2 separate regions of the Homo sapiens genome follow, and region 1 is linked to region 2. Evidence: fine-mapped expression QTL. Tissue or cell type: testis. Region 2 holds a variant in brackets; the other region holds the start of a gene. All regions are shown on one strand. Distances are between the middles of the regions.

Region 1 (5,329 bases), 38 kb after region 2:
CTGCAACCAATCCACTCTGGACAAAAATTTAGACACTATCTCTTCAACATAAGCTATCTAGTGGCATTTTTACATATCCTTACACATATCAACAGTATTTTACATGCTCATAACCTTAAAAATAAAAAGTGTCAAAATTATAGACTTTATGCATTCCTGTGGGCTTGAAAAATGATACAATATAGATTGTTTCTTTAAAGTAGTCAATAAAATGCATAAACTTCAAGTAATCACTAAAAAAAGATTTCATACCAAAGGTAGTAATACCAGAAATAAAAAAGGGCTCAACACTGCAGGTTCTTGAAGGCAAAAGTTAATAAAGACTTTGTTCTTGTTGTGAATCTTGGCCTTAAAACATTATACACATGATCCTCCCTTCCTTTTCCTGTTGCAAAGATGTGATGAACCAGATTTGCTCATGCAGATGACAATACTCTTGAAAATGGTGGCAGAGAAATAAAATGAAAGGAATACAGTTCACTTAATGATCTCATAAATTGGAACTAATTACCCCCTGACTCTTGCATAGCTCCAGACTATGTGAGAGAGATGAAATGGCTGTTTGCTAGCAATATTTTATCTGATGCTTCATTTTTGATTCCTTGAATAACTACTTACAACACATTAAAAGGATCATGAAAGCATAGCTATTCAAGTAACCAAATAATTACGCAATCAATGTTTTTCCTCATCTCTAAAGCATAGTAATGGACTGATTATTTTAAGAATACAACTCGGTGACAAGTAGTTTATGTTTAACTCAGTTTTGGTTTGTTGTTTGTTAAGGCCATTGCTTAGGATAATGAAAACAAGAGGAGGAGAAACAAGAATATAAACAAGAAACAGAAGCAGCAGCATAAGAAAATGAAGAGGAACAAGAAGATGATGATTAGAAGAAGAAAAAACAGACTGAAAGAAAGGAAGAACAGGTGCGGGAATTACAAAGCCTATTATGATACCTTATTTCCCCTCCTGATTTATGAAATTTGAAAAAAATTCAAGACTTTTCACAACAAAGCCAAGCTAAAAGATACACCAATAGTCACCCGCTAAATTTTGCTAAGAATAAGACAATGTTGCCACTCACACCTGGCCCAGGCACCAGCAGGAGGAGGGCACTTCCAGATTCTGCAGGAGAAGGAGGAGGACTCCTCCTTGCCATGGCTGGGCCTCCACTGCTGCCACCTAGGCCCACAGTACAGCACCCGCAGCTGCCTCCCCACTTCAGGCCAGGCTGGGCCCGGTGGGCTCCACAGCATTCCCACTCCCACTTCTCGGATCCCAGACTTGCTGCTGCCGCCACCACTAATGCCAACACCAACATGAGCACCGCTGCTGTTGCCCTCAATGCACCGGCCCACCCTACAAGCCTCCTACCACCTCCAGGAGGCCCCCGCAGACACTCTCCTACCACTCCACCACTCTGGTCAAGCTGCAGTCTCTGTCTCTGCCACCAACTGCAGCGAGGTGAGCCACAGAACCATGCCATCTGCAGGCTCCAGCCTCCAGCGTGCAACAGATGACTCCTCCATCTCCTGGCTCGAAGCAACTGGGTGGTAAAAGCCAGACGTGCCTAGAACAGGATGCAGGGAGTGGTAGTGTTAGAGGCTCACCTTGTCATGCTGGCCACTGGGTGGCAGGGGCTGGTTTCATCAAAGGCACAACTGGGACCTGGGGTGGGTGTGACTGCCTTTGCTGAAACCGGCCCCTGGCGAGGTCCAGCTGGCCAGGAACTGCTGGGCCCACGCTGGCTGCACTCCTTGGTGAGCAGGAGAAGCAGAAACTCAGACCCAGCTAGCTCTCTCCAACCAAGTGCCAGTTCCTGTTTCTGATGCCTCCACCCACAGGACCCTGTTCCCCCGTGGTGCCCAATACTCCGTGCCCAGGGGTCCCAGATTGTCTCTGCAACACAGTGAGAAGGGGCAGGCCCGGGAACCATGGCGGGTGTGGGGGCCTTACCCTGCTGAGGATTCCCAAGGAAACATTGTGCACCTGCCACGCTCCAGCATGAGCAAACAGAGGTTGCCCTCTAGAATCTAGAGTCTGGGAAGAGGAGGACGGCCCCTTCCTTGGAGGCCACAGCTATCGCAGCCACCCCCGTAGCCCGTTGCCAGAAGCAGCAGTGCAGTGCAACCCCCAATAGTGCCCCCCCACCGGCATGCCACAGGGCATGTAAACCTGATAGTGCCCCCAAACTGCCCCACTGCCCCCAGCAGTGCAGCCAGGGATAGTGCCCCCAACCAGCCCTTGCTGGGGGTAGTGACAGCCCAGATAGTGCCCCCAACCTGCCCCCCTGCCATGACAGTGCAGGAGCTGATAGCACCCCTAACCCTCCCCCTAGCTGGCGGTCAGCCCCCTTAGTACACACAACCACCCCCACCACCAGGCAGTATAGCCCCCACCAACTCCGCCAACCCATGCCCCCGATACCCCACCGGCAATGTGACCTTGATAGTGCTCCTACCCAGGGTAGCGCATCCCTGGATAGCTCACCTACCCTGCCACCTTTCTACCATGCTGGCCAAGCTGCAACCTCCATCACCTCCACCAACCGCAGTGAGGTGAGCCTAGATACCACAGGCTCAAGCCGCCAGCTCGGGGTATGTGGCTCCCACTTCCTGTTCTCTAAGCTGAGCTCCCAGCTTCGATTCTGATTGGATGAGAGCAAGTCTTAGGACAACCAATCACAGCATGAAAATAAAGTCCAATCAGAATAGGCCTAGAGGTTTTCTCTCATCCAATCAGAATATGTAGTCCAGGAACCTCATTTGCATAAGCTCATGTATAAGGCATGCAGAAGGGGCATCAGGCCATTCCAGGCTCTTGTGTGGCTGCCTGCGCAGCTGCTCCGTGCCAGGCTTAGAGGACCAGGAGAAGGGGTAGTCACTTGCCACAGCTGGAGGCTGGAGCGTGTGGCACCACGGCTCGCCTCGCTGTGGTGGGTGCTGGCGACAGAGACGGCAGCTCGGCTGGAGTGGTAGGAGGGGGTACATAGTTTTTGGGTAGATGGAGGGATAAAGAGGGTGGCTAGCAGCAAAGGGAAAAGAGGATGGCAAGCAGGAGAAGGCATTGCAAAAAGACGGTGGGGAAAAGATGGTTGAAAAAAGTTTTTGGGTATCTAGGGGGTAAAAAAGGGTGGCATGTAGAAGGAGGAAAGACAGGGTGGTGGGGGGGGAAAACGGGGACAAGTAGGAAGGAGAGAAGGTTTGCAAAAAGACGGTGGGGAGAAACACGGTGAGGAGAACAGAAAGACTGGGGAAAGAAAAGATGTGTAAAAAGATTTTGGGTAGATGGAGGTGGGAAAGGGTGGCACGTGGGAGGAAGAAAGAGGGTGCAGAGAGGGAGGGGGAAGACAGAAGGTGGTGAGCAGGAGGGAGAGAAGATTTTGTGAAAAGTCGGTGGGGACAAGATGGTGGGGAAATACTTTTTTTTCAGTAGATGGAGAAAAAAGGGTGGTGATCAGGAGAAGAAAAAAGGGTGGCGAGTAGGAGGAAGGAGAAGGTTTTGCAAAAAGACGGTGGGAAGAAAAGACAGTGGGGAGAAAAAACTGGGGGAGAAGCTTTTGGGTAGATGGAGGAGAGAAAGGGTGGCAAGCGGGAGAGTGGAAGGAGGATTGGGAAAACGACGATGGAAAAATAGTTTTGGGGTAGATGGAGGGCGACAGGAAGGTGGCATGTAAGAGGAGGGGCAGGAATGAGGAAAAGAGGGTGGTGAGCAGGAGGGACAAAAGAGGGTGGCAAGCAGAGGGAGACAAGGTTTTGCCAAAAGACCGTGAGGAAAAGACAGTGGGGAGAGAAAAGTTTTTCGGTACATGGAGGGGGAAAAGAGGGTGGCAAGCGGGAGAGGGGAAAAGAGGATGGCGAGTGGGAGGGAGACAAGGTTTTGTGAAAAGATGGTGGGCAGAAAAGACAGATGGTGGGGAAAGAAAAGACAGACGGTGGGTAAAATGTGGGTAGACGCAGCGGGAAAAGAGGGTGGCAAGTGGAAGGAGAAAAGAGGGTGGCGAGAGGGAGGAGGGAAAAAGTTGGGGAAAAGACGATGGGGAAAATAGTTTTGGGGTAGATGGAGGGCAAAAGGAGGATGGTAAGGATAGAGGAAAGAAGAGGGCGAGTGGGAACGGGGATGGCTTAGTGAAAAGACGGTGGGGAAATTTGCGGGGGTAGATGGAGGAAGAAAGAGGGTGGTGAGCAGGAGTGGGGAGAAGGCTTTGTGAAAAGACGGTGGGGAGACGTTTTTGCGTAGATGGAGAAGGGAAAGAGGGTGGCAAGGAGGAGGGGGGAAAGACGATGGGGAAAACAGTTTTTGGGTAGATGGAGGTTGGAAAAGCGGGTGGCGAGCAGCAGGAATGGCGAGAAGGCCTTGGGAAAATATGAGGGAAAAGTTGGGTAGATGGAGGAGCAAAAGGAGAATGAGAGCAGAAGGGAGAAAAAGAGGGTGTCCAGTGAGGGGGGAAAAGTTTTTGGGTAGATGGATGGCGAAAAGGGTGGTGAGCAGGAGAGTAGAGAAGGCTTTGCGAAATGACAGTGGGGAAAAATAGTGGGAGAAATGTTTTGGGGTAGATGAAGAAAAAGGGTGGCGAGAGGGAGGGGGCCAAAGGTGGTTGAGAAAAGAAGGTGGGGGACAAAATTTTTGGGTAGAACTTTTTCTGAGTTTTAAATCAGATTATTTGTATTTTTGCTTTGAGTAGTTTGAGTTCTTTATATATTTTGTGTTGTATTAACCCCTTGCCTGATGCATAGTTTGCAAATACTTTCTTCCGTTCTCTGGATTGTTTCTTCATTCTATTGATGGCTTTCTCTACTTTGCAGAAGCGTTTAAGTTTAATGCAATTGCATTTTGTCTATTTTTGCTTTTTGTTGCTTGTGTTTTTGATGTGTATTTGAAAATCCCTTGTCCTAACCAATTTCATGAGGCATTTTGCTGTTTTCTTCTCTAGTAGTTTCATAGTTTCATGTCCTACATTTAAATCTTTATTTTCAGTAGATGGTAAGATAACAGCCTCGATGTATTCTTGTACATGTGGGTGTTGGGTTTTCCTAGCACAGTTTATTGAAGAGATTGTCCTTCCCGAATGTGTGTTTTTGGTGCCTTTGTTAAAAGAGTTGACTGTACGCCTGTAATCCCAGCACTTTGGGAGGCCGAGGCGGGCGGATCACGAGGTCAGGAGATCGAGACCATCCCGGCTAAAACGGTGAAACCCCGTCTCTACTAAAAATACAAAAAATTAGCCGGGCGTAGTGGTGGGCGCCTGTAGTCCCAGCTACTTGGGAGGCTGAGGCAGGAGAATGGCGTGAACCCGGGAGGCGGAGCTTGCAGTGAGCCGAGATCC
Region 2 (5,378 bases):
TAAAGACACAAACTCTGTTCAAAGAGTAGTGGATGAAACACCAGGCAAGAGTCAGAATCCATGGGATCCAGTTGGGTATATTTGAGACCCTAGGCAAATCCCTTTACCGAATGGGGGCCTCACCTCTTATTATTAAAAAAAAAAATCAACATGGGGTATAAAGCATGGTTTTTACATTGAACAGGAAAGAAAACAAACTCATAAAGGAAAAGGCAATTTATTCACTTGTTTTATTAATACAATGAAAGCCCTAGGGATGTGTTTTACTCTTAATCTTAGCCAAAAGGCTGAGAAGTGATTGGGATAACGTGTTTTAGAGCTGGCCTTAGACAAAGCAGAATGCAGGAGCTGTTTTCCCAGGTTGGGCACCATTCTTAGGAAGGTGTTTCCCCGCAGCTTCAGGTTCAATTCTCTCTTCTTAGTGATCCTAGTGATGAGGTTATCTTTATCCTGAGAGCTCCCGATTAAAATCCCCTCAGTCTTTTTGGCTTTAATTGGTCAGGCTTGATCACATACTTTCTCTAATAGTTACTGTGGCCAGAGTGGCTGATTTAAAAAAAAAACAAAAACAAAATACTGATCAGCTATCTTTACTACTGTAGCCAATGGTAAGGACAGTTCTTCCTGAGTTACAGACAATGCTGCAGTTGTGGTGCCTGCAGGCAAATCAGGGACCCAAAGAAAGGAAAATAGATTTTGGGAAAGCAAAGCTACAGATATCCATCACAAATGACCAATGTTTCTTCCTTTTTTTTTTTTTTTTTTAGGTAAGGTCTCGCTGTCTTGCCTAGGCTGGAGTTCAGTGGCATGATCATAGCTCACTGCAGCCTCGATCTCCCAGGCTCAAATGATCCTCCCACGGGCCCAGGGGGGTTGTGGAGTCCCTGGCTTGCACCCAGGGTGCGTGTCTCCAACACGGTGGGGGGGCACCTGAAAGTGGCAAAAAGTGCCCCGGGGCACGGGAACAGGACGCCAGGCTTGCAGGGGGACGTCGAGGCAGCCCGGCGAAACAAGCGCGAGGCCGAGGAGGCGGCTGTGGTCATCCCGAGTAGGCCAGTGCCCTCCTGGCCACTCCTGCACCGGCCCTGGCTGGGTGGGGGATGGTCGTGGAGTCCCTGGCTTGCACCCAGAGTGCCTGTCTTCCCCATGGGGGGCACCTGAAAGCAGCAAAAAGTCCCCCCGGGGCTCAGGGACAGGACGCCAGGCTTGCAGGGAGACGTTGAGGCACGCCGGGGAAACAAGCGGCAAGGCCTAGAAGGAGGCTGTGGTCATCACGAGTTGGCCAGTGCCATCGTGGGAGCCCCTGTGCCACTGGAGAGGCATCGTGGAGTCCCCAGCTTGCACCCAGGGTGGGGTCTCCGACACGGAGGGCACCCCAATGGGGCAAGAAGTCCCCCGGGGCATGGGGACAAACACCAAGCTTGCAGAGTGACGTTGAGACAGCCCGGGGACAAAAGGGGTAAGGATGAGGAGGCTGGGGTCCTCTGAGGCCAGTGCCTCCCGGCAGCACCTGCACGCGGGGGTCATGGAGTCCGTGGCTTGCACCCAGGGTCTCCCTCACGGGGGGCACCCCAAAGTAGCAAGAAGTTCCCCGGGGCACTGGGACAGGAAACAAGGCTTGCATGGGGACGTTGAGGCAGGCCAGGGAAAAAAGCGGGGAGGCCGAGGAGGAGGCTGGCGTCTTCCCGCGGAGGCCAGTGCCTTCCCGGCTGCCCCTGCGCCGGGCCCGGGGGTTCGTGGAGTCCCTGGCTTGCACCAAGGGTGCGTGTCTACACCACCGTGGGCACCGCAAAGCGGCAAGAAGTGCCCCGGGACACGGGGACAGGACGCCAGGCTTGCAGGGGAACGTTGAGGCAATGCGGTGAAAAAAGTGGTGAGTCCGAGGAGGAGTCTGGGGTCGTCCCGCGGAGGCTAGTGCCTTCCCGGCAGTCCCTTCCCCGGCCCGTGAAGGTCCTGGAGTCCCTGGCTTGCACTCAAGAGTGCGCGTCTCCCCCACAGGGGACACCCCAAAGCGGCAAGAAGTCCCCCGGGGCAGGGGAATAGGATGCCAGGCTTGCAGGCGGATGTTGATGCAGCAGGTGGAAAAAAGCGGCGAGGCCCAGGAGGAGGAAGGGGTCATCCCGCGGACGCCATTGCTTTTCCGGCAGCTCCTGCGCCCGGCCCGGCGTGTCCTGGAGTCGCTGGCTAGCACCCAGGGTGCGTGTCTCCCACATGGGCGGCACCCCAAAGTGGCAAGAAGTCCCCTGGGTCACGGGTACAGGACGCCAGGCTTGCAGGGGGAGGTTGAGGTAGCCGGGGGAAAAAGCGGTGAGGCCGAGGAGGCTGGGATCATCCCTCAGAGGCCAGTGCCTTCCCTGCAGCCCCTGCGTGGGGCCCAGGGGGTCGTGGAGTCCCCGGCTTCACCCTGTGTCTC[C/A]CCCCACCGGGGGCCCTCCAAAGCGGCAAGAAGTCCCCCGGGTCACGGGGACGGGATGCCAGGCTTGCGGGGGTATGTTGAGGCAGCCCAGGGAAAACAACAGCGAGGCCGAGGAGGCGGCTGTGGTGGTTCCACAGATGGTAGTGCCTTCCCGGAAGCCCCTGCGCAGGGCCGGGAGGGTTGTGGAGTCCCTGACTTGCACCCAGGGTGCGTGTCTCCCCCACGGGCGGCACCCCAAAGCGGCAAGAAGTTCCCCATGGGACAGGGACAGGACGCCAGGCTTGCAGGGGGACGTTGGGGCATCTGGGGAAAAAAGCGGAGAGGCCCCAGGAGGAGGCTGGGGTTCTCCCGCAGAGGCCAATGCCTTTCCGGCAACCCCTAAGAAACGATGATTCAGGCAGACTTTACAAGGCAATGACCCCTTTGCTTTCAATGTATAATAGCACGTCCCTAAAACTGAAAGAAAAGGATTACTGATGGCTACACAATTTAGTCACAATCACAGTCATGTGACTTGCTTTAATGACATTCAATGCCTTTTTAAAAAAGATACCTGTCATTAACTGCTTCTGCGTTATGATTGCTAGGGTAAGTTTCTTTAAATACACTGTTTTATTCTAATAAATTTTCAGGTGTACGATAAAAACCCTGATGTCATAGTAAATGAATATTTCCTGGGGAATAAGTTGTCCGTGTCTTTGCGACGAATGCATGCTTTCACAGAAAACTTCCCCCAGTGGGATTCTGGCATCTGGGATAGTTTATTTCACTTAATAGGAACGTGCAGTTTACTGTCCTGGAGGAGTTTATGCAACATTTGATCAACTGTTATACTATTTCTTAAGATGAAATAAATACATGTAAGATTTCATAGATGATCTCTCTGTGTAAATATAAATTCTCGATATTTACTGGCTATTTCAAAGTGTGGTAGAAAAAGCAGCCACTGTGATTGTAAGGGCAGATGCACTTACAATAAAGAGGGGATTGTACTGAATATGGAGGAGCTGAACTGATGATTTAAAATTTATCAGAATATGATAGGAGTCCTCTTTAACCACTCTGAGCTATTTGTAATAAACTCGAGTAATTTTTGTCTTCAAAAATTAAAGTTATGTTTCATCATGTTGCTCTAATTCTTGGCAAATCCTCAATTGTTTTGCTCTGCAAAGTGTTTAATGTTCATGTTGACATTCTCCACAACGTTAGTAGTAATGACTTAGAACCTAGACTTATTAAAGAGATTACATTTTTACTTTTACATTTTTACAGAAACTTAATTTTTGGGTTCTAAAATGATGTCTCTGTCCAAGTTTGCAACACTGACACTTTTACCTTAATGTTACCCATGGAAAAAAATCAATCAGCTGAATTAGATTTATTTTTACAGGAAAAAAATGTGTAATTAAATTCATGAAACCCCACTATTATAAGAAACAATATATCATATCTATATCTCTCTGTATAGATATGCCCTTTACAAGCAAAGTGGATAATAGACTGTTTATTCACAAAACATTTCATATCTTTGCATCATATCACATGCAATATGGTGAAATAAGAATAGTTTTAACCTTAGGATCAAATATTTGGTTCAAATCTCAACTTTACCACTTACAAACTTTGTAAACTTGGGTTTTATTTATGTGTTTATTTATTTATTTTACCATTTGAAGCATCAGATTATATAACAAAATTAATAGTAATTCATAATGTACATAATGGTTTGTAGATTACAGAACAGCAGTAAAAAAAAAGTCTCACACAATGATTGGAGCATAACAGAGATTGAATAACTCATTTCTCCTTGTCTTCCCTTCCTCCACAAGGGATTAGCTTACATGTTTTCCATTGTGAATACCTGATAAATATGTTTTTACTTGGTTTACTAAACAGTTAAATACACACAGATTGACCAATTTCCTTCAAAAAAGTTGTAAAGGTATTTTCACAGATTAAATTTAGAAAAATGTTACCTTAATTTTTTAAATCATCTTCTGACATTTAGTCAATAATTCCTGTGTATTGTCAGGAATTTAATGAAATAATATATTTCACATAGTGCATTGAATGAAATACATATGTAATTATTCAACTACATGTTACTTATTGATACATACTACATTTTGTAAATTAAACAAAAGTTTACCTGAGAGCAAAAAACTATAAACAAGAATTCTTATTACAACATTTTTATTAGTAATAAAAACTTAAAATAATCCAAATAAATGTACAAAAACAATCACAGAGAAATATTATTTTTCCCCTTATTACTAAGCAGAGAAAAAATTCTAACAAATTTTAGATAGTATGTAGAGAATAGAATCCATTATTATTGCATTTTTGTAAATAGTAAAAAATGAAAATATATATAGATATTATGTGTAGAAAAAGGAAGAAAGGGAACTGAAAACAGTTATTGGAAGGGGAAGGTGATTATGTGGGTCTTTCTCTTCCTGCATTATGTAGTTCTCTAATGCTTAAACTTTGTAATATATTTTATATTAGAGTACATATTAATATTATCCTTTGGAAATAATATAACTTTCTGACTAAAAATGAAGAAAATAATTTGAGAGCTTGTCTCTTAAGGCAAATGACTAAGGTGATTTAACTATATATGTCTCAGTTTTCTCATCTAACAATTCTCATCTAACAAACATCTAATCTACTTTATAGAATTGTGGAAATAACTTGAAATAATGCGAGAGAGACCACTCTGCAATATATAGTGCCATCTCATAATTCGAAATCCAAAAATGGATTTGCTTCGAACTGTTGATAAGATTACCTTGCCCACCTCTAATTCAAGGTGGAAGACAGTGCAGTAAATGGCTCTTACATAGATAAAACACTGCCTGCCTTAGCAGCTAGGTTTAACTCCTTCAGAGACAGGCTATTGTCATCAGTTAGTGTTGAAAAACTAATCTCACACTTTCAAAAGAAAAGCTCAATTACCATGTTG

Direction of the effects. Positions count from the first base shown, and alleles are read on the strand shown. Sizes are in standard deviations (SD) of each study's normalised expression.
As copies of C replace A in region 2, the expression in testis of the gene that starts at base 2,631 in region 1 goes down (large effect, 0.84 SD a copy in GTEx).

What was found. PIP is the estimated chance that this variant, and not a neighbour inherited with it, causes the effect.
Region 1: LINC00408 starts here. The variant in region 2 is the best candidate, but not a certain one, in a credible set for the expression of LINC00408 in testis (GTEx, PIP 0.74).

What each region holds. Positions count from the first base shown.
Region 1 is chr13:18,902,741-18,908,069 of GRCh38, reverse strand. It overlaps LINC00408 (long intergenic non-protein coding RNA 408), which reads right to left and starts at 2,631. Exons shown (of 6, transcript NR_104118.1): 1 at 2,494-2,631; 2 at 1,960-2,043; 3 at 1,412-1,573; 4 at 268-435.
Region 2 is chr13:18,940,635-18,946,012 of GRCh38, reverse strand. No RefSeq gene overlaps it. Among named protein-coding and RNA genes, the nearest start is that of LINC00408, 38 kb to the right of the region's middle. The variant C/A (reference allele first, on the strand shown) is at 2,414.